Linked DNA regions of Homo sapiens. The protein of the gene in region 1 purifies or fractionates together with the protein of each later gene. This does not show direct contact. Each region holds a gene or a part of one and is shown in the gene's direction. Other genes may lie near its edges.

The links.
Region 2: the proteins of HABP4 (region 1) and DHX8 purify together in Homo sapiens (affinity purification with mass spectrometry, with the first as the bait; one large-scale study listed by BioGRID). This does not show direct contact.
Region 3: the proteins of HABP4 (region 1) and YTHDC2 purify together in Homo sapiens (affinity purification with mass spectrometry, with the first as the bait; one large-scale study listed by BioGRID). This does not show direct contact.
Region 4: the proteins of HABP4 (region 1) and NUSAP1 purify together in Homo sapiens (affinity purification with mass spectrometry, with the first as the bait; one large-scale study listed by BioGRID). This does not show direct contact.
Region 5: the proteins of HABP4 (region 1) and DDX10 purify together in Homo sapiens (affinity purification with mass spectrometry, with the first as the bait; one large-scale study listed by BioGRID). This does not show direct contact.
Region 6: the proteins of HABP4 (region 1) and KNOP1 purify together in Homo sapiens (affinity purification with mass spectrometry, with the first as the bait; one large-scale study listed by BioGRID). This does not show direct contact.
Region 7: the proteins of HABP4 (region 1) and DNAJC9 purify together in Homo sapiens (affinity purification with mass spectrometry, with the first as the bait; one large-scale study listed by BioGRID). This does not show direct contact.

What each region holds. Positions count from the first base shown.
Region 1 is NC_000009.12:96,481,169-96,484,668, forward strand, and holds part of HABP4 (intracellular hyaluronan-binding protein 4), read left to right. Parts: intron 1-3,293; coding exon 3,294-3,465; coding exon of another isoform or gene 3,466-3,489; exon of another isoform or gene 3,490-3,491; intron 3,492-3,500. UniProt on the Homo sapiens protein: Ribosome-binding protein that promotes ribosome hibernation, a process during which ribosomes are stabilized in an inactive state and preserved from proteasomal degradation.
Region 2 is NC_000017.11:43,514,975-43,518,474, forward strand, and holds part of DHX8 (ATP-dependent RNA helicase DHX8), read left to right. Parts: intron 1-2,192; coding exon 2,193-2,348; intron 2,349-2,857; exon of another isoform or gene 2,858-3,088; intron 3,089-3,500.
Region 3 is NC_000005.10:113,512,363-113,516,493, forward strand, and holds the start of YTHDC2 (3'-5' RNA helicase YTHDC2), read left to right. Parts: upstream 1-1,331; 5' UTR 1,332-1,533; coding exon 1,534-1,720; intron 1,721-2,908; exon of another isoform or gene 2,909-2,909; coding exon 2,910-3,000; intron 3,001-4,131. UniProt on the Homo sapiens protein: 3'-5' RNA helicase that plays a key role in the male and female germline by promoting transition from mitotic to meiotic divisions in stem cells.
Region 4 is NC_000015.10:41,349,881-41,353,380, forward strand, and holds part of NUSAP1 (nucleolar and spindle-associated protein 1), read left to right. Parts: intron 1-1,107; coding exon 1,108-1,249; coding exon of another isoform or gene 1,250-1,267; intron 1,268-3,500. UniProt on the Homo sapiens protein: Microtubule-associated protein with the capacity to bundle and stabilize microtubules. May associate with chromosomes and promote the organization of mitotic spindle microtubules around them.
Region 5 is NC_000011.10:108,675,069-108,678,568, forward strand, and holds part of DDX10 (probable ATP-dependent RNA helicase DDX10), read left to right. Parts: intron 1-527; coding exon 528-658; intron 659-2,016; coding exon 2,017-2,175; intron 2,176-3,246; coding exon 3,247-3,367; intron 3,368-3,500. UniProt on the Homo sapiens protein: Putative ATP-dependent RNA helicase that plays various role in innate immunity or inflammation. Plays a role in the enhancement of AIM2-induced inflammasome activation by interacting with AIM2 and stabilizing its protein level.
Region 6 is NC_000016.10:19,704,833-19,708,227, reverse strand, and holds part of KNOP1 (lysine-rich nucleolar protein 1), read left to right. Parts: intron 1-1,006; coding exon 1,007-1,318; 3' UTR 1,319-3,395.
Region 7 is NC_000010.11:73,244,456-73,248,427, reverse strand, and holds the start of DNAJC9 (dnaJ homolog subfamily C member 9), read left to right. Parts: upstream 1-1,172; 5' UTR 1,173-1,238; coding exon 1,239-1,418; intron 1,419-1,599; coding exon 1,600-1,740; intron 1,741-2,251; coding exon 2,252-2,506; intron 2,507-3,923; exon of another isoform or gene 3,924-3,972.

The sequences.
Region 1 (3,500 bases):
CCGCCTCCCGGGTTCAAGCAATTCTCCTGCTTCAGCCTCCCGAGTAGCTGGGATTACAGGGATTACAGGCGTGTGCCACCACACCCAGCTAATTTTTGTATTTTTAGTAGAGACGGGGTTTCACCATGTTGGTCAGGCTGGTCTTGAACACCTGACCTCATGATCCACCTGCCTCGGCCTCCCAAAGTGCTGGGATTATAGGTGTGAGCCACCGCGCCCGGCCTGTTTTTTCCCCTTAAACACTTTTGAGATATAATTCTCGTACTATAGCACTCAAATCTCTAAGTATATAGGCCAGGTGTGGTGGTTCAGATCTGTAATCCCAACACTTTGGGAGGCAGAGGCAGGAGGATAGCTTGAGGCCAGGAGTTCAAGACCAGCATGGGCTACATGGAGAGACCCCGTCTCTACAAAATGGTTGTAAAAATTAGCTGGGCCTGATGGCTCGTACCTGTAGTCCCAGCTACTCTCAGGAAGCTGAGGTGGGAGGATCCTTGGGCTCAGGAGGTTGAAGGTATGGTGAGCCATCATCATGCCACTGTACTCCAGCCTGGCCAACAGAGTGAAACCCAGCCTGTATCAAACAAATAAATGAGTAAACGACTGAATGCATGGATGGATGGTTTGGGGTATGTTACATTATTAATTTTTTAAAATTGCAGTAAAAATAACATAAAAATTGCCATTTTTACCATTTTAATATATATAATTTAATGGCATCAGTAACATTCATATTGTGTGTAACCATCACCACCATCCATCTCTAGAACTTTTTTTTTTTTTTTGAGATGGAATCTCACTCTGTTGTCCAGGCTGGAGTGCAGTGGTGCGATCTCGGCTCACTGCAACCTCCACCTCCCGGGTTCAAGCGATTCTCCTGCCTCAGCCTCCTGAGTAGCTGGGACTACAGGCACATTCCACTACACCCGGCTAATTTTTCTGGTATTTTTTAGTAGAGACGGGGTTTCACCGTATTGGCCAGGCTGGTCTCGAACTCCTGACCTCATGATCCGCCTGCCTCAGCCTCCCAAAGTGCTAGGATTACAGGCTTGAGCCACTGTGCCTGGCCTTGTAGAACTTTTTCATCACAAACAGAAACTCTATATCCATTTAACACTAACTCCCCATTTCTCCTCAGCATGTAGTAATCTCTATTTTACTCGTGTTTATGAATTTGCCTATTCTAGGTGCCTCATCTAAGTGGAATCGTTCAATGTTCCTTTTGCACCTGGCTTATTTTAACTATTAGCATCAAGTTTTCAGCTTCATTCATGTTGTAGCATGTGCCAGTCTTCATTTCTGTTTTTCTTTTTTTGTGTGTATTTTTGTGATGATTTTCAAATCTACGATTTTAATCCTTTTAAAGTGTACAATTCAGTGGCATTTAGTACATTCAGAGTGTTATGCAACCATCACCATGATCTGGCTCCAGAAGGTTGTTATCATCCCAAAAGGAAACCCCATGCCCATTCAGCAGTCACTCCCTATCCTCCCTCCCTGCAGCCCTGGCCACCACTGACCTGCCTCCTGTCTGTGTGAATCTGGCTCCTCTGAATATTTCATGTAAATGGAATCATACACAGAAGTCTTTTCTGCCTGGTTTATTTCACTTGCATCATTTTTTCAAGGTTTGTTCATGTCGTAATGTGTATTAATACTTTGTTTCTTTTTATTGCCAGATAATATTCCAAAAAATGTGCCATATTTGGTTTATCCACTCATTAGTTAATAGACATTTAGGTTGTGTCCACTTTTTGGCTATTATGAATAGCACTGCAGTGAACACTTGGGTTTAAGTTTTCATGTGGATGTGTGTTTTCATTTCTCTTGGGTATAAACCCAGGAGTGAAATTTCCGGGTCAGAGGCTAACTCAGCTTAGATTTTTGAGGAACCGCCAGACTGCTTTCCAAAGAGGCTACACCATTTCACATTCCCACTGGCAGTGTATGTGGGTTCCAGTTTCTCCACATCCTCCCCAACGCTTGTCAAATGTCGTTTTGGTTCTAACCATCCCACTGGGTGTGGACTGGTGCAGCTCTGTGGTTTTGACTTGTCTTTCTCTAATAGCTAATGATGTGCAACATCTTACTGCCTATTTGTATATCTTCTCTGGAAAAATGTTCACTCAGATCCTTGCCTTTTTTGGGGGGAGGGTGGTCATTTGTCTCAACTAAAGAGGACTTGTATCTAGAATTCATAAAGCATTCTTTTTTTTTTTTTTAAAGAGACAGTGTCTCATTCTGTTGCCCAAGGTGGAACACAGTGGCCATTCACACGTGTGATCATAGCTCACTGCAGCCTCAGATGCCTGGCCTCAAGCGATCCTCCCACCTCAGCCCCCTGAGTAGCTAGGACTATCGGCATGAGCCACCACGCTTGGCTGTTCATAAAGAATTCTTTATGTATTCTAGATACAAGTCCCTTGTGAGATATATTATTTGTAAATATTTTATCCCATTTTGTGGACTGTCTTTTTACTTTCTTGATGGTGTCCTTTGTAGTATAAAAGTATCTGATGATGTTCAATGTATGTACTTTTGTTGCTTGTTTTTTTGGTGTCATGTGGAAGAAACCATTGCCCAGTCCAGGGTTAAGAAAGTTTCTGCCTAGGTTTTCTGCTAAGAGTTTTATATTTTAGCTCTTGTATTTATGGTGTGAGGTAGGTCTAACTTCATTCTTTCTTTTGGTGTGTGTGGATATCCAGTTGCCCAAGCACCGTTTGTTGAAAATACTTTTCATTCTCCATTGAATTGTCTTTGGCACCACGGTTGGAAAAAAAAAATCAGTTGACCGTAAATGTGAGGGTTTATTTCTGGACTCTGAATTCTTTGCTCTCAATCTATATTTCTGTCTTTTGTTTTCTTTTTAAAACTCATTAAAGAGGATATTTGCAAAAGTATGCATTCATGAGCCACTGCTTTAAAACTTGTTTATGGTTTCCTGTATTTTATTTCAACCCATTGTCCATAATTACCTCATTTTGTCTGTCATGCTGTCTGGAAGGGAGTGCCAGTGGTGAAGTGTGATGTTAATGTCATCAGGATGGTGATGTTCCCATTTTTCAAAGATTGATTTGAACACAGATAGGAAGTATCTTCTGTTGGCAGTGATGACATAAAATGTTGAAAATGAAATATGGAAGCTTGTGAGTCAAAGATTTCCTTACCTTATTTGCATTTGAAATGCAGTACCACAAAAATATGTTGAATTAATGGTTATAACTTTTTCTTTATAAAGTAGACATTTTAGTACCATCAAAAAGTATTCTTTATGATTATATATCTCTTTATAGAGTTCCTGAGTTGGAGGTAGAAGAAGAAACCCAAGTTCAAGAGATGACTTTAGATGAGTGGAAAAATCTTCAAGAACAGACCAGACCAAAGCCTGAGTTTAACATCCGGAAACCAGAATCCACTGTTCCTTCCAAAGCCGTGGTGATTCACAAGTCAAAATACAGAGATGATGTAAGCATTGCATTTCGTATGTAGAGGTAATCTTT
Region 2 (3,500 bases), on another chromosome or scaffold:
TGTGAGTGAGCTGTGCCCAAGATTGAAAGCATGTAGTCTAAATGTTAGCCAAGATTATTTATGGGTGGTGCTACTAGATGATGTGCATTTTCTTTTATACTTTTATATGTTGTCTTAATCTTTTACAGTGGGTATGTATTACTTTCATAATTTGTGAAAGCCTTAAGGCTATTTTTATTTTGAAACTTAAGTAATAATAATAGCTAACACTTTTTGTTTTGTTTTGTTTTTTGAGATGGGGCCTTGCTCTGTCGCCCAGTTTGGAGTGCAGTGGTGCAATCTCAGCTCACTGCAACCTCGGCCTCCTGGGTTCAAGTGATTCCTCTGCCTCAGCCTCCCAAGTAGCTGGGACTACAGGCGCATGCCGCCATGACCACCTAATTTTTGTATTTTTGGTAGAGATGGGGTTTCACTGTCTTAGCCAGGATGGTCTCCATCTCCTGACCACATGATCCACCCGCCTCAGCCTTCCAAAGTGCTGGGATTACAGGCATAAGCCACCGCGCCTGGCCCAATAATAGCTAACACTTACAGTGTACTTAACGTCCTAGATACATGCATTGACTTGGTGCATTCTCGCATTGATCCTATGTGGTAGATATTATTTTCACAGATGAGGAACCTGAGGCACAGAGGGGTTAGGTGATTTGCCTAACATCACAGAGCTAGTGGAGCCAAGATTTGAACCTGGGTAGCCTGGCTCCAGCTTGTATGCTCTATACTACTTGTCAGGGTGGCGGTGATCAAAAAATTAGTTACACATGCCTGTCCTGATTTGGAGAGAGACATGTGTAGAATGCTGTAGAGTCCAGCCACTGTGTGTGATTGCTGCCTGGATTTGTGTGGTTAGTTGTCCTTTCATAACCTATCCTTTGGTTTGGAGCTGGCATAGTAATTTGTAAATCCTGGTACTGTTTGTAACAACAGATGGTTTTGTCAGAAAATGGCCCTCTTCAGATTGCTATTCATTGTTTCCTAGCAACCTATGGCTAAACTACATTTTTTTTAATTAAAAAAAAATCAGTGTTTTTGAAGTAGTGTTTTATTATTTTTGAAAAACAGAAGAAAAAAATTTACCCACCATCCTACTACCTCCACTGTTATTATTTTGCTGTTTTTCATTCCAGTCTTTTTTCATGTTTATTTCTTTCATGGTTGCAATTTTAGTAGTCAAGTAAGTATGCAGTTTTGTATATTTTTTTGAGTATTTAATTTTCCTATTAGAATAATACATGTTCAATATTTGGTAAAATCTAAAGAAAATAGACCTCATCTGCAAGCCTACTATCAGAGTTAGCCACTGTTAACATTTTAGGGTTTTTTTCGCCTAGTCATTTCCTTCTAGTAGTTGATATATAAAGACTTTTACTAAAATTATTTTACATTGTTTCGTAACTTGCATTTTGCATTTAATGCGAATGAACATTTTCTTCTGTCATTTAACATTGCAAACATGATTTTTATTTTTATTTTTTATTTTATTTTGAGTCAGGATCAGTCTTTGTTGTTGCCCAGGCTGTAGTGCAGTGGTGTGATTACGGCTTACTGCAGCCAGCCTCGACCTCCCCAGGCTCAGGTGATCGTCCCATCTGAGCCTCCTGAATACTGGGACTACAGGCGTGAGCCACCACACCAAGCTAATTTTTGTATTTTTTGTAGAGATGAAGTTTCAACATATTGCCCTGGCTGATCTCGAACTCCTGGGCTCATGCAATCTGCCCACCTTGGCCTCCCAAAGTGCTGGGATTATAGGCATAAGCCACGACGCTTGGCCTGCAAACATAATTTTTAAAATGACTGCAGAGTCATCATTGGGATGATTGACGTAATATGTTTATTTCACTTACATTTTTGGTCATAACTGTGGGGATGGTGTTCTGTCATCTTGTTTTATGCTTTCTCTTTTATATTGCGCCACACTATTTTGAAGATATATGTCTCAGATCTGTATAATATTTCTTCCATTAACCCTGCTTGTATTGCCTCCCTCGAACAAACTTCCCCGAAGTGCTGAGTATGGAGAGGGGAAGATAAGAGCATTGGTAGTCTTGGAAATGGTCCCAAAGGAAGTGAAATCAACCCCATTTCTGATTTTGCCAGTTGTTAATTGTCCCCCTTTTAACAGATATCCTGGGTAAAGCTGTTAAGCAGTGTTTAACAGATATGTTGCTTTTATATGCCCACCCCTCTAGGCTCAGGCAAAGCAACGAGCTGGCAGAGCTGGGAGAACAGGCCCAGGGAAGTGTTACAGGTTGTACACAGAACGTGCCTACCGAGATGAAATGCTGACCACCAACGTGCCGGAAATCCAGAGAACCAACTTAGCAAGCACAGTGCTGTCACTCAAGGTAGAAATCACTGTCTTGTTAAAATGGGTTGGTGGAACAGTCCAATCCTGGCCTTCATAAATGAATTTCAGTTTTATGAACCTTGTTAAATACTTTAGTAACCTCATGAAAGCAGTCCCTTTGAGTGAAATGCAAATGGCTGTGATAACAGCCTCTCACGGCAGGTCTGGGGCTAAGTTGGCATGTCTGCTGTGAACACACATTTTTTCTTACCATAACAACCAGCAGGATATTAGGTTGTAAAAGGTTCTAGTTAGGAGCATTTTCTAAAAGGAAATTAGAAAAATATAATCAATGCCAAACTGTGGACACACACACCTAACCTCAACCACTTTAGCGCTCAGATCCAATTCTGTTCTTTTAGAACGAGAGAAAACCCCCTGTTCAAAAACTTTGCAAGGGAACTGTCAGTACAGATTTCAGACTGGCTCTCAGGGGCTTGGTTTTCATTCTGAATCATTGTTCTTCCTCTCTCAGTCCCCAGTGAGGACTTCATTCTCTTTTGGCAGGAGGAGCTGTATGAGTAATTTCCCAGCTGATGGCGTTTCCCCCGACACTGATGCTACCCTGGAGCCCTGGTACTTTCTGGTGCAGAGTGCTCTGTTGTCATTTATTATTTATTCCCTGTCAAAGAGGCTAAAACAGAGCTTTGGAAAGAAAAAAGAAACCTACTCCAGTCTCTGAAGTGCCAACAGAGAGGCATCTGTGGCTTGGACTTCAGCTCCAAACTGCGACTTTGGGCAAGTTTATTTACTTTGCCCTCTGCTCTGTGTTCTGCTCTGAAAAAGGGGCTGTTAATAGTATTTGTTGGAAAGATAAGTGAGATAATGTAGGTAAAGGCACTTGGCACAGTGCTTGATGATTGCTAACATAATTCATCATAGTTATTATTCACACAATAAACATTTATTGAACACCTGCTGTGTTTATGGTCACAATCACTTTATGAGAAAGAAATAGAAAGCTTAGGTCCTACCACATCACACTTTATATACACTTGAATCGTGCATCATTCAGTCGTTTCTTTTATTCATCGAATTAGCTAATGTATTGAACACATGCTACATGCCAGGCATGTAGATTGCACTGTGGTGGTTTTGTGAACATAGTTTTTACCCAGTGTGAACTCTCTGAAAGCAGGGGCCATATCCT
Region 3 (4,131 bases), on another chromosome or scaffold:
TAGTTGTCAGTGGGCTAGCCTAAGCTTCTTTACTTTGTGGAAGAAGAATTCTCAGCAGCAAAACAGGCTAAGCCTTAATGCACAAACACCTTTCAAGCCCCTGCTTATCTCGTATTTGCTGATGTCCCAATGGCCAAAGCAAGTTACATAGCCAAAGACAGAGTCCATGTGGGAAGGAAGAATACAAGGGTGTGAACAGAGGAATGTGTGATTCATCAAAGGCCATACCTTTGATGAATTCAACAATTTACCATAATGTTACAAAAAAAAATCTTCCCAAATCTCAGCAGTTTACCACAACTAAGAATTATTTCTTACCCATGTCATATTCCAATGTGGGTTGGTGAGGACACTCTATCACACTCGTTCAGGGAATCGGGAACCTGTTATCTATCTAGTGGTTCCACCGTTGTCTAAGAACTTCCAGAAGACCAGGAAAGACAGAGAAGGGAAGATTCAAGGAAGGTGTTATAGACCAATCCTGGAAGTGGTATACATCAGTTCCAGCAACATTCCAATGGCCGGAACTCAGCCATGTGGCCCCCAGCTAACTGCAGGAGAGTTGGGAAATATAATGCCTAGGAAGAAAAGATACTTCTTGTCACCAAATATTCCGCCCCCTTCTTACCACACACAGAATACACATATACCCTCCCCAGACACCTGGAATTCTATCTAGTCACTGCATCCAGGATCTGTTGTTGATACACAGTCCTCTTTATTAGATCCAGATGTATATCCTCATTGCCAGGTAACTCATGAACTATGTAAATATGTACTACATACCTGCCCCCACTCAGCTACCCTGTGTAGCGTGATAGAGCAAGGGTGGCATACTTGCATTAAAATCTCCCATTCAGAAAAGGGAAGAATGCAAGACACACAACAGTGGCTCATTCTTTAGTATATGTATTTTTTATGATATTTTTCCAAATATTGCATGGGAAATATATACACTAAAAATTATTCGTTTATCTGAAATGCAAATTATTAAGCATTCTGTATTTTTATTTGCTAAATCTGGCAACCCTCCTCCCACTAAAATATAAACTCCATGAAGGTAGGAACCTTGGCTCTCTGGTTCTCCAATGTACATCGAAGGCGTGGCATAATGCCAGGTCCACAGTAGAAGCCCATACATGCTTACTGCAGGAATTAATGAAGGACTAAACGAAGTAGCAAGTGAGTGAATAAGAAGATGAGGAGCGACCCTTGGTGGGCGGCGCGGGAAGAGAACCGCACCATAGCTCCGCAGACAGCCTCCTTTAGGCGCGCAGCGGCGGCCGCGCTGAGGTCACGGGCGCCGGCCCTGGTGACGTCATTACGCCCGCGCTCCTCGCCTGGCCGTGATATCAATGGCGCAGGCTTCACTTCTGCTGTGGCGGTGACTGAGGCCTTTCTGGTGACCTCAGCCCAACACAGGCCGTCTCCGGAGCTTCCCGGTAGTGGCCCCGGATTCCCACGGTCTTTGTCATTGGCTGTCAGCTAGCAGGCCTGGCCGCTCCCGTGCGGAGAGACCATCTCTTCAGGGCAATGTCCAGGCCGAGCAGCGTCTCCCCGCGGCAGCCGGCTCCTGGCGGTGGCGGAGGCGGCGGCCCCTCGCCTTGTGGCCCTGGGGGCGGCGGCCGGGCCAAGGGGCTGAAGGACATTCGCATTGATGAGGAGGTGAAGATCGCAGTCAATATCGCGCTGGAGCGCTTCCGATACGGGGACCAGAGAGGTGAGGTTCCGGACAGGGACCATGCTGGCAGTCAGGATACCCCCCTCACCCCAGCGCCCCCCAAACGGCGGCCCACCGAGTGATGGGGGTGCCTCCGAAGAGGGAGGGAAGACCCGGGCCACCGTCCGGGGCGGGCCTCAGCGGCGGCACCCGGGTCTGGAACGCGGCTGTTGGCCCTGCGGTGGAATGCGAGGTGCTCTGCGGATCAATGGGGTTATGGGCACTTTGCTCCCTAGCTGAAAGTGTTTTTCCCCCGCGTCTTTCAGCAGCCTTGGGCGGTTAAGCCACCGTGTTTCAGATATTGGTTAGCCCTAACCCTTTTTAAGGGGGTGTCACCTAATTGTGGCACGTTTAAGCTACAGATGTAGAAGAGCAGAAAGAAATCAAACATATAAATAAATGCACCAGCAATACGTTTGGACCCTGAAGCATCACGCTACCCACTTAAATTAAACTTGTTTGGCACACGAAGCATCTTCCACACCTCTTGAGGTTAGATAGCCACTTGTCTTGGGTCATATAATGCAGAACCAGCAACTGACCTGCGGTGACCTGTGCAGTCTGTTGAGGGCTCATTCGGACCTGCTGGCTTAGTTAGGGGACCTCTTACTCTGGAATCTTATAGTCCAAAACGGGGAATGTTCTAGACAGAGAGATTCTAAATTCACATTAAAAAAAGAGAAAGCCTCAGCAATATATAACAAATCCCTCTGAAATAGTGAAATACGAATTCTGTACAGTTTTGAAAGCAAAGACAATGGAGTTTCATGTTGAGAATTCATAATATTTGAACATATCTCATCATTGAAGAAAATAAACATTTTGTTAACTAAACAAGTAGGGACCAAGTTAAATATGTTCAGTCATTATACCAACTCAAAATTCCAGAACAAGTAAGAGGAGTCGTTTTTGGTGAATATCAGAGGCCTTTATCACATTTAGGTTTAATACATAGCTGTCTTTTTATTAATATCAGAATTCTGATAGACATTCAGTAGTTATTGAATTAATAAAATATCTTAATTTTATTAATTTACATAAATAGAATATGAAATATAAAGTTAACCTCAAATAAAGTATAATAAATTTGATTGTCTATGTATGTTTTTCATATTTTGTATCTGTGTGTTTTACTTGAGAGAAAATTGCCTATCTACAAATTTTACTACTTTGTTTTTTTTCCGTGTAGAAATGGAATTTCCTTCTTCTTTGACCAGTACTGAAAGAGCCTTTATTCATCGACTCAGTCAGTCTCTTGGTTTGGTCTCTAAAAGTAAAGGGTAAGCTGGTAGCTTTTCTTATTTTTTTTAAAAAAGATTATTTGCCCAAAAAAGGGAGAAACGTTTCTGAGTACATTTAAGTACTTATTACTGTTTTAACTTCACATTCTTAATTGTATCATATGTAGATAAAAGATTCAGGTCTGTACCAAATTCAACTCTTTCCTCTTCCCTCTGTCTACCTCTTCCCCCCTTTTTTGTTTTGTTTTGTTTTTCCCTAGGAAAATGCTTTTTCTTCTACCCAGCTTAGGTTCCTTGGCTGGGACCCTGCAAATTAGACTGATAAAAGACATATTAACAAGAGAAAAACATAAGCTTATTAAGACATGCATCATGCATACATAGGGGAGAACTCGATAGTAACTCAAACATGGGGCTTATGTGGCATCTTAATAAAGAACAATGAATTTATTTAAAAAATGACAAGACAAAGGAAAAGGACTTTGAACTTGTAGGTGCAGTAAATTGTGGGAAGGTATATGTGGGGAAACTAATGGAAGATATGTGTTCTTTTAGCAAGGTTGGTTATGTAGGTTCCCCTGGTGCTGTCTCTATTAAGAGTCTAGAGTGGTTTCTCTTGTTAAGAATAGTCCTTCCCTTTCTGGTAAAGCAGGGGAAGGCGGAGTTTTTCTTATGTCTGCTTCTTCTCGATTGCCTTCAGCTCAAAATAATCCTTATGGCAGAGTGACATATTTTTGGGTGGCATACCGTGAACTCTTTCAAAGGTAAATTTTAAGATGTAAGAAAAAAATAGTTTAAAAGTTGAAGTTGATTGCTTGAGAAAAATATTTTTATTTTTTGATAGAAATCTCATTTGAAAAATGGATGTACAAAAGATAGTTGCAATTATTTATGGAACTTACTTCTTTTACTGTTACTGCAATATAATAATAAGCTTTAGAGCATATGTTCATTGTTTTCTTTCCTACCAAGTCAAGGATCTGATGATTAGAAATGATTTTAAAAAGTGGTACAGGAGGAAATTGTTTTGTTTTGTTGGGAGGATCACAGAGTTACATTGAGGGAAAAGTCATTTGAGCCATCCAAATTGAAAAACTCTAAAATTCTGTGGCGCTATTTCATTTTGTTAATAAGGATGGTGGGATCAATGTAAAGGAAGCTTTCTCACTG
Region 4 (3,500 bases), on another chromosome or scaffold:
CTCTGCCTCCTGAGTAGCTGAGATTACAGGTGGCCACCACCACGCCCAACTAATTTTTGTATTTTTAGTAGAGACGAGATTTCACCATGTTGGCTGGGCTAATCTTGAACTCCTGACCTCTGGTGCTCTACCCACCTCGGCCTCCCAAAGTGCTAGGATTACAGGTGTGAGCCACCATGCCCAGCCCTGAAACACAGTCTTAATTTTCTTTTCTATGTTCATATTGTTGCAGTAAACTGAGGAACGGAGAGACTAATACGGAGTACAGGAGGATTTGTTTATTTTAGGCACGCACCGGCTCGGAGGATTCACATCTAAAAGCTGAGCCTTGAACAAAGACTGAGCGGGTTTTTATAAGTGGCTTTACAGAAGCAAAATAAAAGCAATTAATCATACAGTAACAGGTTACATAATCTATAGCGTAACATAACTTGTGACTTAGCCAGTGGCCTTGTAGCTGCATTAAAAGAAAAACAAGAACTGGCTAAATACAGACATTTGTAAAACATAATCATGCTAATCATGCTTAAGAAGCCCGGGAAAAGAGTAACATTAAAAGAACTTGTATTTCTCTTTTTTTTTTCTTTCAACCTTGCTCTGGAACCAGGGGTCGGGGGGAGGGTGGTGTCTGGAGCTTATTCCTTTGGCCTTGGCTATTTGGACAGCGTTATCTTCTAACTGTCTTCAAAGTGAGCTACTAGGCAGAGGAAAACTTGTTCTTTTCTTTTTAACTCTTGCCTTGCCACATTCTGGGCCTTAGTTTTTACTTTTCTTGGAGTGAATAAATGCAGTACTTATTATTATTTAAATTTCTGCCTCAATGTAGTCACTTGCTCAGTAGACTGTCTAGGTTTCTTCATTTGTCCTTGCTAACAGAGCTAATCTTGCCATTTCTATTTTCCTCTTAATGTGCCCTAGTATCTCCTGTTCTCAAATTTACATTCTCGTGACAGTTGATAAGGCAGAGAACCAAATCTGCCACCAAAAATCTCATTCTCCTACTTTTCTTCCTTTAACCCCTTTTCCCCCTCACTTTGGTACTTATCTTTGGAAGGCAGCAATTCTTATTTATCATCGAAATCTTTTATTTCCTTTTTAAATTTGTAGCAGAATCATTCAGAGATAAAAATAAGTAATCCCACTGAATTCCAGAATCATGAAAAGCAGGAAAGCCAGGATCTCAGAGCTACTGCAAAAGTTCCTTCTCCACCAGACGAGCACCAAGAAGCTGAGAATGCTGTTTCCTCAGGTAAACGTGGAATAAATGGTATGTCAAGTAACTTTAAAAACCAAAATTGCTAGAAGTAGCCAGGTACATTAATTTCCTAGGACTGTTGTGACAAAGCACCACAACTGGGCAGCTTAGAACAACAGAAATTTACTCTTTCATAGTTCTAGAGGCTGGAAGTCCAAAATCAATGTGTCAGCAGGACCATGCTTCTCTGAGACTCTGGGTGGACTCCTTCCTTGCCTCTGACTACTTTGCGATGGCTGTCGACGCTTGGTGTTCCTTGGCTTGCAGCTGCATCATTACCAGTCTCTGGCTCTGACAGCGCATGACATTCTCTCTCTATGTCTTCTTAATAGGACAGCAGTCATATTGGATTAGGATCCACCCAAATAGGCCAAGCATAGTGGCTGGTGCCTATAATCCCATTACTTTGGGAAGCCAAGTCAGGAGGATTGCTTGAGCCTAGGAGTTCAGGACCAGCCTGGGCAACATGGTGAGACCCTGTCTCTACAAAAAGTCAAAAGAATCAGCCAGCCATGATGGTGCACACCTGTGGTCCCAGCTACTCAGGAGGCTGAGGTGAAAGGGTTGCTTGAACCCAGGAGGTTAAGGCTGCAGTGGGCCATCTTCATACCACTTCACCCCAGCATGGACAGAGTGAGACCCTATCTCAAAAAATTAAAAGAACATCCAAATGATGTCATTTTAACCTTAATACATCTGAAAAAAAATTCCCATATCTAAATAAGGTCATATGACAGGTACCAGTGGTTAGGACTTCAACATATCTTTTAGGGGGCCACAATTCAACCCATAGCACCATGTTATAGAATTTCTTTTTTTTTTTTTTAGACAGAGTCTTGCTGTGTTGCCCAGGCTGGAGTTGCAATGGTACGATCTTGGCTCACTACAACCTCCACCTCCTGGGTTCAAGCGATTCTCCAGCCTCAGCCTCCCAAGTAGCTGGGATTACAGGCTCGTGCCACCAGGCCCAGCTAATTTTTGTATTTTTAATAGAGACGGGGTTTCACCATGTTGGCCAGGCTTGTCTCGAACTCCTGACCTCGTGATCCACCCACCTCAGCCTCCCAAAGTGCTGAGATTACAGGCGTGAGCCACCGCACCCGGCCTTCCTTTCGCTTTCTTTTGCCTACTAAACCTCTGCTCTTAAAAAATAAAAAATAATAATAAATAAATGAAAATAAAATATCTCAGTATTAGTTTCACCTGGGCAAATCTGCTAGGGCCCTGAGCCTTGCCAGAGGAGGAGTTAGAGAGACTGAGAGAGGATAATTCATTCCAGTATCCACCAAGCAGTTAAATCTGGAATTTCTAATCCTGAGCCTTCTCATTTTCCCTAAAACTTTGAGTGTCATACTGAATCTAGAAAATTACAGGATTCCTTGGGTCTGAGATGGGCTTGGGAATCTTCAGTTTTTAACAAGTCTCCCAGGTAATTTTTAATTTTTATTTATTTATTTATTTATTTATTTTTGAGACAGGGTCTTGCTCTGTTGCCCAGGCTAGAGCACAGTGGCACGATCTCAGCTCACTGCAGCCTCAGCCTCCTGAGTACCTGGGACTATAGGCATGCACCACCACGCCCGGCTAATTTTTGTATTTTTAGTAGAGACAGGGTTTCACCATGTTGCCCAGGCTGGTCTCAAACTGCTGAGCTCAAGTAATCTGCCCACTTCAGCCTCCTAAAGTGCTGGGATTACAGGTGTGAGTCACCATGCCCAGCCAGCATTTTTTAATACAGGCCAGTTTTTTGTCCTCTGAGTTGGTTTGTCTAATATGTCCTCATGCTTAGAATCAGACTATGGGCTGTTGGCAGGAATCCCAAAGAGCAATGCTGTTGCTTCCTCAGTAAGCACCCTAGGAGGCACAAGTGCTGGTTTTTCCTATGGCTAGTCACGTTAACTTCCATCAGTTAGTTATGGTGGTGTCTGCTAGGTTGTTTCTTTGTGAAGTTACTCTTTTACCACTTGGAATTAGTAAGTATCCTGTGGAGAGTTACTCTACATAAATATCCTTTCTTTGTTTTGTTTTGTTTTGAGACAGAGTCTCTCTCTGTTGCCCAGGCGGGAGTACAGTGACAGGATCTCGGCTCATTGCAACCTTTGCCTCCCAGTCTCAAGCAATTCCACTGCCTCAACCTCCCAAGTAGCTGGGATTACATGTGTGCACCACCATGTTTTTGTTTTTTCAGTAGAGACAGGGTTTCACCATGTTGGCCAGACTGGTCTCGAACTCCTAATCTCAGGTG
Region 5 (3,500 bases), on another chromosome or scaffold:
AGGCTGAGTCATATTCCATTTGTGTGTGTGTGTGTGTGTGTGTGTGTGTGTGTGTGTATGTGTATGTATATAACATATATTTTCTTTACTCATTCATGGACACTTAGGTTGATTTCATATCTTGGCTTCTGTGAATAATGCTGCAATGAACATGTGAGCACAAATACTTTTCAAAGTAGTGGTTTTATTAATAAACCCTTTGGATTATACCCAGGAGTGGAGTAGGTGGATCACAGAATAACTTGTCTCTCTTCACATGGTTTTCCCTCTGTGCATGTGGACCCTTGGTGTCTCTTTGTTCAAGTTTCTTCTCATAAAGACACCGTTTGTGTTGGATCAGAGTCCACCCCTATGGGGCTCTAACTTAATCAACCTCTTTAAAGGCCCTGTCTCCAAGTATAGTTATGTTCTGAGGTACGAGGCATTAGGGCTTCAACATAGGAATTTTGGGGGACACAACTCACTTAGCCTATAATACCATCCTACAGGGATCTTCTAAAGTATAATTCTTCCCTCCATGTTGCCAGGTTTGCAAGAAGCTCAGTACCGTTTGGTGACTGAGATACAGAAGCAGACCATTGGATTGGCTTTGCAAGGTAAAGATGTACTTGGAGCGGCCAAAACTGGATCTGGCAAGACTCTGGCTTTTCTTGTTCCAGTAAGTACATTGTCATTGGGTCAGACTGTCTGTTATACAATTTTATAACATTCTGTGCCCAGATGCAGATTATATAAAGAGATGTTTTCATGTTAGATTTCATGATAGATTGGCTAGAATGCGAGCTTCATCAAACAGGAGCCACATGTGTGTCTTGTTCTCACCATTTTCCCCAGGTTCTAGCACAGTGCCTTGCATGTGGCAGGCACTCAATAACTTACTGAATGAATGAACTATTGTGCCTTGACAAGTCATTACATTCTTGATGGAAGTGGAGTGCTCCAGTATGGCAGGTTAAAGTGGTTCTGTGCTGCAGTAGGACTGGTGGGAGACAGTTTCTGCTCTCACCCTTGTGAGCCTGCCAGTGGCATTTATACTTGCCACCTTGTTTAGGATAAAGCTGAAATATGCTCAGTTTAAGGAGCTTTAGGCATTTGTTGAGAATTTTCTGGGACATTGCTATCGGTCTTTTATGGCAGCAAAACAGTAGAGCTTCTTAGGCTTTCACTTCCATCTCTGTTACGTTGGTCTCCTAATTTTTCATTCCTATAAAATGACCCAGAAAAATCTCATTTTAGTTTTTGTTCCAAATATTGCAAAAACCACTTTTCTCTTAAATCCTAGTGTGTTTTTGCCCCCTTAAAAAAAAAGGCTCCCTATAGCTAGATAATTCAGTTACTATATAACTACAGCAGCTACATGGGTGAAAGTTTATTTACTTATTTTTATTTTTTTTTGAGATGAAGTCATGCTGTGTTGCCCAGGCTGGAGTGCAGTGGTGCAATCTTGGCTCACTGCAACCTCTGCCTCCCAGGTTCAAGCGATTCTTTCTGCCTCAGCCTCCCAAGTAGCTGAGATTACAGATGTGGGCTACCACGCCAAGCTGATTTTTGTATTTTTGGTAAATACGGGGTTTCATCATATTGGTCAGGCTGGTCTTGAACTCCTGACCTCAAGTGATGCACCCGCCTCCTCCTCCAAAGTTCTGGGATCAGGCGTGAGCCACTGCGCCCAGCCAAAAGTTTTAGTGTGGTTATTTAGAAAATGATAAATATTATTCTTAAGTGTGTTGTAAAGGTCTTTGGGTTGTACATACCTTTCACTGATAGCCAGTTTCCTGATGGCATGGCTCTGGCAGCAGCTGAACTACCGTGGGGTTTCTTTTCCCTTTCCTCTGAGTTGGGGGTGGATGGTTCTGATGGAAGATAAACAAAATCATTTACTTTGGACTGGATAAAACTTGAGTGGTATGCCTTCTGCTTGGAAGATCCCTTTGATTTGGAGGGGCAAGGTTGAGATGCAGGTCAAAAAGCTGACTTCTGATGACTTACTGAACATGAATTTGCTGTCTTTTTGAGGTGCTGGAAGCCTTATATCGTCTGCAATGGACTTCAACAGATGGGCTGGGGGTTCTCATAATATCACCTACGAGAGAACTGGCCTATCAGACCTTTGAGGTTCTCCGAAAAGTAGGAAAGAATCATGACTTCTCAGCTGGTCTCATCATTGGTGGAAAGGTTTGTCCTTTTGTCTATGTCCTTCCTTTCCTTCTGTAACCTATACTGGAGTACTGTGGCCGATGACAGGGAGGCAGCAGAGACTTCATCTAAACAGACTGACCTAGACCAGGGCCTCATGGGATAGTAGCACTTGGTGTGGTCGCTGCTATCTACGATCTGGTTGCCAATTTTGCAGGCCCAGAAAGTCCATTTTTTTTTGTCGGGGAATCTGAATTGATTAGCCTCTCTAAGACATATTTACTCTAATCCTGTAAAGTTATTTGTTGATATTCATTGGGAAAGATATTTCCATATATGAACTAGTACCTTTTAATAAGGTATCTATCTAAGAGGCTGAATAATTCAGAGGATTGCTACATCAGCAGCGTAAGAAAGGAAGGTAGACTCTTTAGAGGAATGTTTATAGTAGGTCAAGATAAGACCTGCTGCTCACTTTTGTTCTATCTTATAGCACATCTAGAATGCCTCTATCTGCTAGAATCTCCACTAGACTGTGAGGATAAATACTTCAATTTTTATGCAAACATGCACAAAAGAAGAAAGAATAGCATCACAAACCCTTACGTACCTGTTGCCTAACTTTAACAATTAACAACATTCTGTTTTTTCCCACCGCCTCCAGGACTGTGAGAAGTGGTTCTTGTATCAAGGAGAGAACCTCGGCTTTTTTCAGTTCACAAAGTACAGTCCTTGAGCGGTGTCAGAGTCTGTTCAATGTCCCTGGGTCCTGAATTAAAGAATGAGAGTGATTCCAGTTTATGTCAGTTCTGATCCAAATAGGAAATCCTGACTTGGAGTATTCATTTGATTATTTTTTTTTCTTAGCCTCAAAATCCTGGGTATGAATAAGAATTTAGAACTCTGAGCTCCTTATGTCTTCCTGTAAAGACTTTTATTTAGCCCAGAAATGTGGATATGGTTCAGAAATACAAGGGAAAAGTTATGTTTATTTCCAAGAGTATCTAAAATGTTGTGATGAAATGCCCATGCAGATGGCTTTTATAGCTTTGGTACACAGGCTGCTGAGAGTGATGTGTCTGTGTAATCAAAATAAATAACTGTTTTCAGGATCTAAAACACGAAGCTGAGAGGATCAACAACATAAATATACTCGTGTGCACACCAGGTCGGCTTCTTCAACACATGGATGAAACAGTATCTTTTCATGCTACCGACCTCCAAATGTTAGGTGAGTCAAATCAATTTCTAATTTAAAAAAAAAAAAAGCTCAGACTTAGGAGAGAGCCCTTATACATTTTTATGATAGAAATTTTATGTTAGATAAATGTTATGATTCAAAACAAACTTAAAAATTACTGAAA
Region 6 (3,395 bases), on another chromosome or scaffold:
TTGGCTGTGTGACCTTTTACCCCTGTGGGCCCGCACCCGTTCCCGCCATAAAACAGTGCTTCTGAGAAGCACACTTCAGATTCCCACTCGCCCTCTCCCACCCTCCAATTCACCCAAACGTTAGGCTGCTGGGTGAGTGCGCCCGGCTGCTGGGCTGTGGGGTGCCCTGTGTTGCAGGGGAGGTGCGCCCTGTGGGGAGGTGGGGGAGGTGTGCTGTCTTGTGAGATGCATGGTGGGGTGAGGTGCGCTGTGTAGGGAGGTGGGGGGAGGTGCGCTGTATAGGGAGTGGGGGAAGTGCTATGTAGGGAGGTGGGGGAGTGTGCTGTGTAGGGAGGTGGGGGGAGTGCGATGTGTAGGGTGGTGGGGGGAGTGCACTGTGTAGCGTGGTTAGGGGAGGTGCGCTTTGTAGGATGGTAGGGGGAGAGTGTGCTGTGTAGCGTGGTGGGAGGAGGTGCGCCATGTGCGCCGTGTAGGGAGGTGGGGGGAGTGCTCTGTGTAGGGTCGTGGGGGGAGTGTGCTCTGTAGAGTGGTGGGGGAGTGTGCTGTGTAGGGAGGTGGGGGAGGGGAGGTGCACTGTGTAGGGAGGTGGGGGGAAATGCTTAGTGTAGGGTGGTGGGGGGAGTGCGCTGTTGTGAAGTGAGGCACACTGTGCCGTGTGCCATGAGTTAGGAAAGGAGGAGGAAGGCAGAAAGGCAGCTCTGTGCAGAGGTGGGCAGTGGTGTTGGCTGGACCTGGGCTGGAATTCTGGGGGTCACTAGTTAGGTTTCTGTCTCCAGCTAAGCTGCAGACCTCTATTTTCTCCTCTGTGCAATGGGAATAACAACAGTGTTTCTCATAGGGCTGTCTTTAGGATTAACGGAATAATCCGTTGTTGAGCTTATTAGCACTGTGCCTGGTACACAGCAGCCATCTAATCTGCTGGGCCCTCCCTGATGAGGGTGGGGGTCAAGGGAAGGAAAGGGCTTTGAACTCAAGGAAAATAGCCACCTTTTTCCTCTCCTCACAGGGAACCCAGTTTGGCCAGTGGGATACTGCTGGTTTTGAGAACGAGGACCAAAAACTGAAATTTCTCAGACTTATGGGTGGCTTCAAAAACCTGTCCCCTTCGTTCAGCCGCCCCGCCAGCACGATTGCAAGGCCCAACATGGCCCTCGGCAAGAAGGCGGCTGACAGCCTGCAGCAGAATCTGCAGCGGGACTACGACCGGGCCATGAGCTGGAAGTACAGCCGGGGAGCCGGCCTCGGCTTCTCCACCGCCCCCAACAAGATCTTTTACATTGACAGGAACGCTTCCAAGTCAGTCAAGCTGGAAGATTAAACTCTAGAGTTTTGTCCCCCCAAAACTGCCACAATTGCTTTGATTATTCCATTTATGCTGGAGATTACAAATTTTTTTTGTGAAAAAATCAGATCTTGGTGAGGACCTCGAGCAGTAAGATATAAATAACTCCCATAAGCTTAGCGTTCCAGTAATGGAACACTAGGCATAAATGGTTTATTCAGTTGTGCAAATGAAAGCCATCTGACAGTTGGCTCACATTGAACACCTGTGGAGATTAAGGACGAGGACAACTATATTGATGGGCTTGGATGAACTGGGGCAGGGCAGCTCATATTTCGGGAGCCAGGAGAACGAGTGAGTGCTAAAACCTCCTGTTTTCTGTGTTAAACATTCCGTCCCTGTTTGAGACATCAGTATGTACAGTTAACTTTTGTTGAGTGTTTAGCAGGTACTAGGGACATACTAGTGTTTTCCTTAATGTATTTAATCTTCATAATTATGAAATGGGTGCTATTATTAGCCCCATCTTATAGATGAGGCAACTGAGGTTCAGGGATAAAGTAATAAAATTGCCTGGGGTCACCCAGCCACTAAGTGCAGGGTGTTGTACTTTTGTACCCGAAGCCCTAAGTTCACTATTCGCCACTCTGAATGTCCCCTTTAGGGAATTTCCACCAGAATCCTCGTTGGGGATTGAAATGTCTTTAGATGGAGGAAAAAGTTTTATGACAAGTCTGCATCTCTGATAAAAAGTGGAGTGAATGAGGAACGGAGAATCGCAAACTCCTTTTCCTTCCTTTTCCTTTCCCCTGTCATAGAGCAGCTGTAGGCAGAGAGGTGTCTGAGTTGTTACCAAACACATGTGACTGAGCTGCTGCTGCTGGGAAATGTGCCTCTAAACCAGTCCTGCCTTTTCCACTGGTGTCCCTTCGGCCCTAAGTGCTGAGGTAGGATTTTTGTGCTTTGACTGGATTCTGAACAAGGCATTTTAGGAAGAGTGGTTAGTCCCGCAAATGAATCAATGGCAGATCCCAGGGACGTGTGTGTGTGTTTTGAGATAGGCTCTCACTCTGTCACCCAGGCTGGAGTGTAGTGGCATATCACGGCTTGTTGCAACCACTACCTATCCAGCTTAAGTGATCCTCCCACCTCAGCCTCCCAAGTAGCTGGGACTGTGGGTGTGCACCACAACAACCAGCTAGTGTTTAAAATTTTTTGTAGAGATGGGGTCTCACTATATTGTCCAGGCTAGTCCCAAACTCCTGGACTCAACTCATGCTCCTGCCTCAGCCCCCAAGAGCTGGGATCACAGGTGTGAGCCACTGTGCCCAGCCCCAGGGATGTGTCTGATGAGATTCTTTTTTATCACAAGGAAGAGAATCCCAGGTGACTTCTGTAGGTGGATATTGAATGCCAGGAGGAGATGAACGTGTGGAGATGACACGGGAAGTTGCCTCATCGGCTGTGGGGACAGCGTTTCCAAGCCTGGACTCTACAGCAAGCCTCAAAGAGCTCCAGGTCCAGTGGCCCAAGTCGCATGTGACCATCTGTGACCACCTTCTTTCCACTCACCTAGCTTTTTGCATCCCAAAATACAGGTTCTGACTGGGACATTTTCACGATCGTTTGGCCTGAACATGCCTCCTACAGACATCCCAGCCCAGGCAGGCCTCGATGGCCAGAAAGTTCAGTCTCACGTGGCAGGAAGGCCTGATTAGGGCCTGGTTCAACAGCTCGCCAAGGAAGCATTCTCTCCATCATCTCCAGTGTTGGCTTCATCAAGGCTAGTACAAAGATGGCAGTAACAGTTCCAGGCAGCATATCAAGACCCTAGAACATTCCAGAGGAAGAAAAGCCTTTTTGTGTCTCAAGGAAACTTCCAGAAGCCTCCATTGCTGGGCAATGAGTCATCTGCCCATAGCTGCACCCGCCCCTGTCATGGGAAGGCTGGTGATTCCCTTCAGTCAAGAAGAGTGGATGCTGGTGAAGTGGCCATGGTGTCCACAGCTGCCCATTGGGCAGAGGTGAGGCAGGCACTTCAGGCAGTTTCCCTGGCTCTGAACCCTGATCCGCAAGCATTGGCCAGGTCAATAGTTGGACAAGTATGTGCTAC
Region 7 (3,972 bases), on another chromosome or scaffold:
GATTACCAGCCATCTCAAATTCTGTGGTTGTCAAAGCTCCCCTGGGGTTGTTGCTGGTTGGCCCCCACTTGCTTTGAGACTTTGATGCCAGGGCAGGTTGAGAGGAACTGACTTCAGCTGAGTTTGATCTTGGATCTGGGAAAGAGAAATGCTTTGAAAATCACGGCAACTCTGGGAAGTTTAAAAGATATTAATGTATCCTGGAGAGTTTGAGGCTTTGCAGAAACTTATTGGCAGAGCAGAATGATTCTGAAAAATGCTACATCAGTGAGGGGATATTTGATAAGGTATTTTCTGCCAACTCGGGTATTCACTTAGCATTGTTTATCCTTTAAGATATGTATACACATACTTCCTCTGTGAGTTTACCCTACTAACAAAGTTTTATCCCCAGCCTCAACCTTGCTTTGGGTCTCCAGGCCCAAGTTTCTCACCATCTCTTGGATGATTGCTCCAGCCCACTCTGCTGCCACCTGGGATCCAACATGTTCAAACCCAGCTGTGAACTTCACAGAGTATTAAAAGAAAGAGCCTTTGCTTCAGCAGTTTATGTTATTAAGACGGAGGCTTGGGTCATGTTATCTCTCTCCACCAATGTGTAAGGTGAAAGTCCTATTAGGTAAGAGTTTTTGGAAGACCCGTGTTTTGTGCTTTTTGGGTTTCAGTATAGGGTTTTTTCCTACAGGGCTAGAGGGAAAGTACCCCAGCATTTCCAACCAGTGGGGTGCAAAATTATTTGGGTCTACAGCTTTACCTATTCCTTTCAAGAACATTTTTGAAAAAACACATCTGTTAAGTTGAACCATGTGTAACTGCTGAATGCTGATGTTTGGCCGTTTTCTACTTAAAAAAATAGGCCAGCAGTTTGTAAATTCAAGCTAATATATGAACTTTTTGAAAAAGTTGTTCTTGGACACTAAAAGGTAAGACGGACGCCAGATTTCCAGAGCAAGGGGAGGAGAGACCCGAGCAACATCACTTCCCTGAAGACCTAGCTCCTGCGCGCGGCCGGGGACTGTGACTCCACATGCCGGCGTTACTTACCCGGGCCCGCGCCTGACTCGCCACACCTCATTTTGCGGCCGCCGTAAAGCGCGGATGCGCGGCGTGGCCACGCCCCTTCAGTGCTTGTGACGCAGGCGCCCTGGGCTTTTTGGGCGCGAAAAAGAAGCAGTCCTGGGTTGTACCCGGCGCAGCTGGGAGCGGCTGCTTCCTCCGGGGTCGTATCTCCGCCCGGCATGGGGCTGCTGGACCTTTGCGAGGAAGTGTTCGGCACCGCCGACCTTTACCGGGTGCTGGGCGTGCGACGCGAGGCCTCCGACGGCGAGGTCCGACGAGGCTACCACAAGGTGTCCCTGCAGGTACACCCGGACCGGGTGGGTGAGGGCGACAAGGAGGACGCCACCCGCCGCTTCCAGGTATGCAGGGTCCCGCCCCGAAGCCGACCGGCTGCGCGGGCCTCCCCCTAGCCTTTTGGCTACCGGGCCCCGCCCCGGGGGAGCGCGCTGAGCTCCGCTTGGCGCCTTCTGATCTTTATTTCTCGCGCCGCCGTTTCGGTGGGAGGAGCAGGGGTGATTTACGGATACTCTTTGCCCTCAGATCCTGGGAAAAGTCTATTCCGTTCTCAGTGACAGAGAACAGAGAGCAGTGTACGATGAGCAGGGAACAGTGGACGAGGACTCTCCTGTGCTCACCCAAGACCGAGACTGGGAGGCGTATTGGCGGCTACTCTTTAAAAAGGTAAAGGACTCTGGAGGTTTCTTTGTGACTGTTACCATCATTCAATCAACAAACCTTTATTGACTGCCTCTAAGATCTTGTATTTTGTGTTAATTTTGTAGGAATTAGGAATTTTGAGTTTGGCCTTGAAATACAGATACACGCACGCTTACTGAAACGGGCTTTAAATTTCCTGTTAATGTGATTGTTGCACTGAAAAGGGCCGATTTATTTTTTTTGCCGGATGCGCTTTATTTTACATATCCAAATGTAAGTCCTGATTCCGGATCACCTCTCACTCTTGGAAATTTCACTTAAATTTCCCTTCCCTGGTCCCTAGTTAGCAGTTAATGAAGATTGGATTTAAAAAGGAGGACTCCGGAGAAGCTTAGGCATAGAAAATCTGGTTCAATAATTTCAACTCAAGCAACTGTTGTATTGCAGCAATTCAACACCCAACTCTAGTTTTACTAACGTACGTTTTATTTAAAGTAAAATTCCCAAAGTTAAAGCAAATCTCCTTTATCATCAGATATCTTTAGAGGACATTCAAGCTTTTGAAAAGACATACAAAGGTTCGGAAGAAGAGCTGGCTGATATTAAGCAGGCCTATCTGGACTTCAAGGGTGACATGGATCAGATCATGGAGTCTGTGCTTTGCGTGCAGTACACAGAGGAACCCAGGATAAGGAATATCATTCAGCAAGCTATTGACGCCGGAGAGGTCCCATCCTATAATGCCTTTGTCAAAGAATCGAAACAAAAGATGAATGCAAGGAAAAGGAGGGTAAGATTTTGAATACTGTGGATTTATATTTTGACTGCTTCCAAAAAGGATTTGAGAGTATTTACAGCAGTAGAAGTAAACATAAAACTCCAGAAATAAGGACTAGGGTTAACTTGGTCTATAGTTTCGATCTAATAAAATGGGCATACCAGTTCATCAAGAGAAACTTTTTCTAGCATGTTGTGCTCAAGATGATTTTTATTGCATAGATTGTTTAAATATTACCATAGTAAAGTAGCACTGAAATATTTTTTCATGTAGGCCAATTCTTGTAGCATTCCTGAGGCATTCCTCAGGAGATAAAGTTAGTGGAACCCGGGTACACAGGATGGGCAGTGATCCTTACTCGGTTGAGGGGGTAAGAAGAGAATGGCAGACACCGTCTTGTTAAAAGTGCAGATGTTTGGGCCTTTGCCCCGAATTTGATTCTTGAGTTGGATACAGAATTTTTCTTTTCTTTTTTTTTTTTTTAAAGAAAAACTTTAGCTTAGCGGTCCCCAGCCTTTTTGATACCAGGTACCTGTTTTGTGGAAGACAGTTTTTCCAGTGACAGTGGGGGTGAGGAGAGTTGGGGGGGTGGTTCAGGATGAAACCTTAGATCATCGGGCGTTAGATTCTCTTAAGGAGCACACAACTTTTAGGACCACTGCTGCCTTCCTGAGTGCCCTCAGGAACTTTTCTGCAGCTTTTACATAAGAGACGCTGGCAGAGAGAAAGCTGACCTTTTTGTTTCCGGTGAAAATTTGAAGGGCCTGTTTTGCCTAGATAAGAGGCTGCACCCTTTCTGGTGAGCTTGAGGGGAACGGTGGAGTGTATATCAAGACCATTTTGGTTCATAGGCTACATCTGCTAAGACTCAAGCTGACAATTATCTTAAGTCGTTCATCATTTCCTGAGATGAAACTGAGCACAGCTGCATTCACAGTAGACTGTTAGCTTGAGAAACTTCCCTAGAATTTGAGGAGAAAATGGCATAGTTTTGATAGACTGTTCAACAAACCTTAGGGGGATGCTGAATTTAAAGAGAGAATTTGAATACAAGGAAACGGTGTCTTATTGGGATAGGGGGTCCTAATGTATCATCATCCTCAGTATTAATAGCATTAATTGCTACTTAGAAAATTCACAAGGGGTGTTGGGGCCTCTTATAGTTGTTGCCCTAAGGTGTTCTTGTGATATTTTGTAAACAATGCTCTAGGAACACTTGGCAAAGGAAGGCTGCTTTGAAATTAGGTAAATAGATGTTAAAACTGAGTTTATTGATGTTGGTTCTTCTGACTACTGGGGAGAAGTCATTTTAAACTGGGGTTGTTCACAAGGCACCACCAGTCCCATGGAGTAAATTGGGTTTCCAGGAGAGAAATTGGAAATACCTGTATCCTGGCAATTGCATCATTTGCCTTTTTTTTTTTTTTTTCTCTTTTTTCTAAGAGATGGCATCTCCATCACCCAGGCTGGAGTGCAGA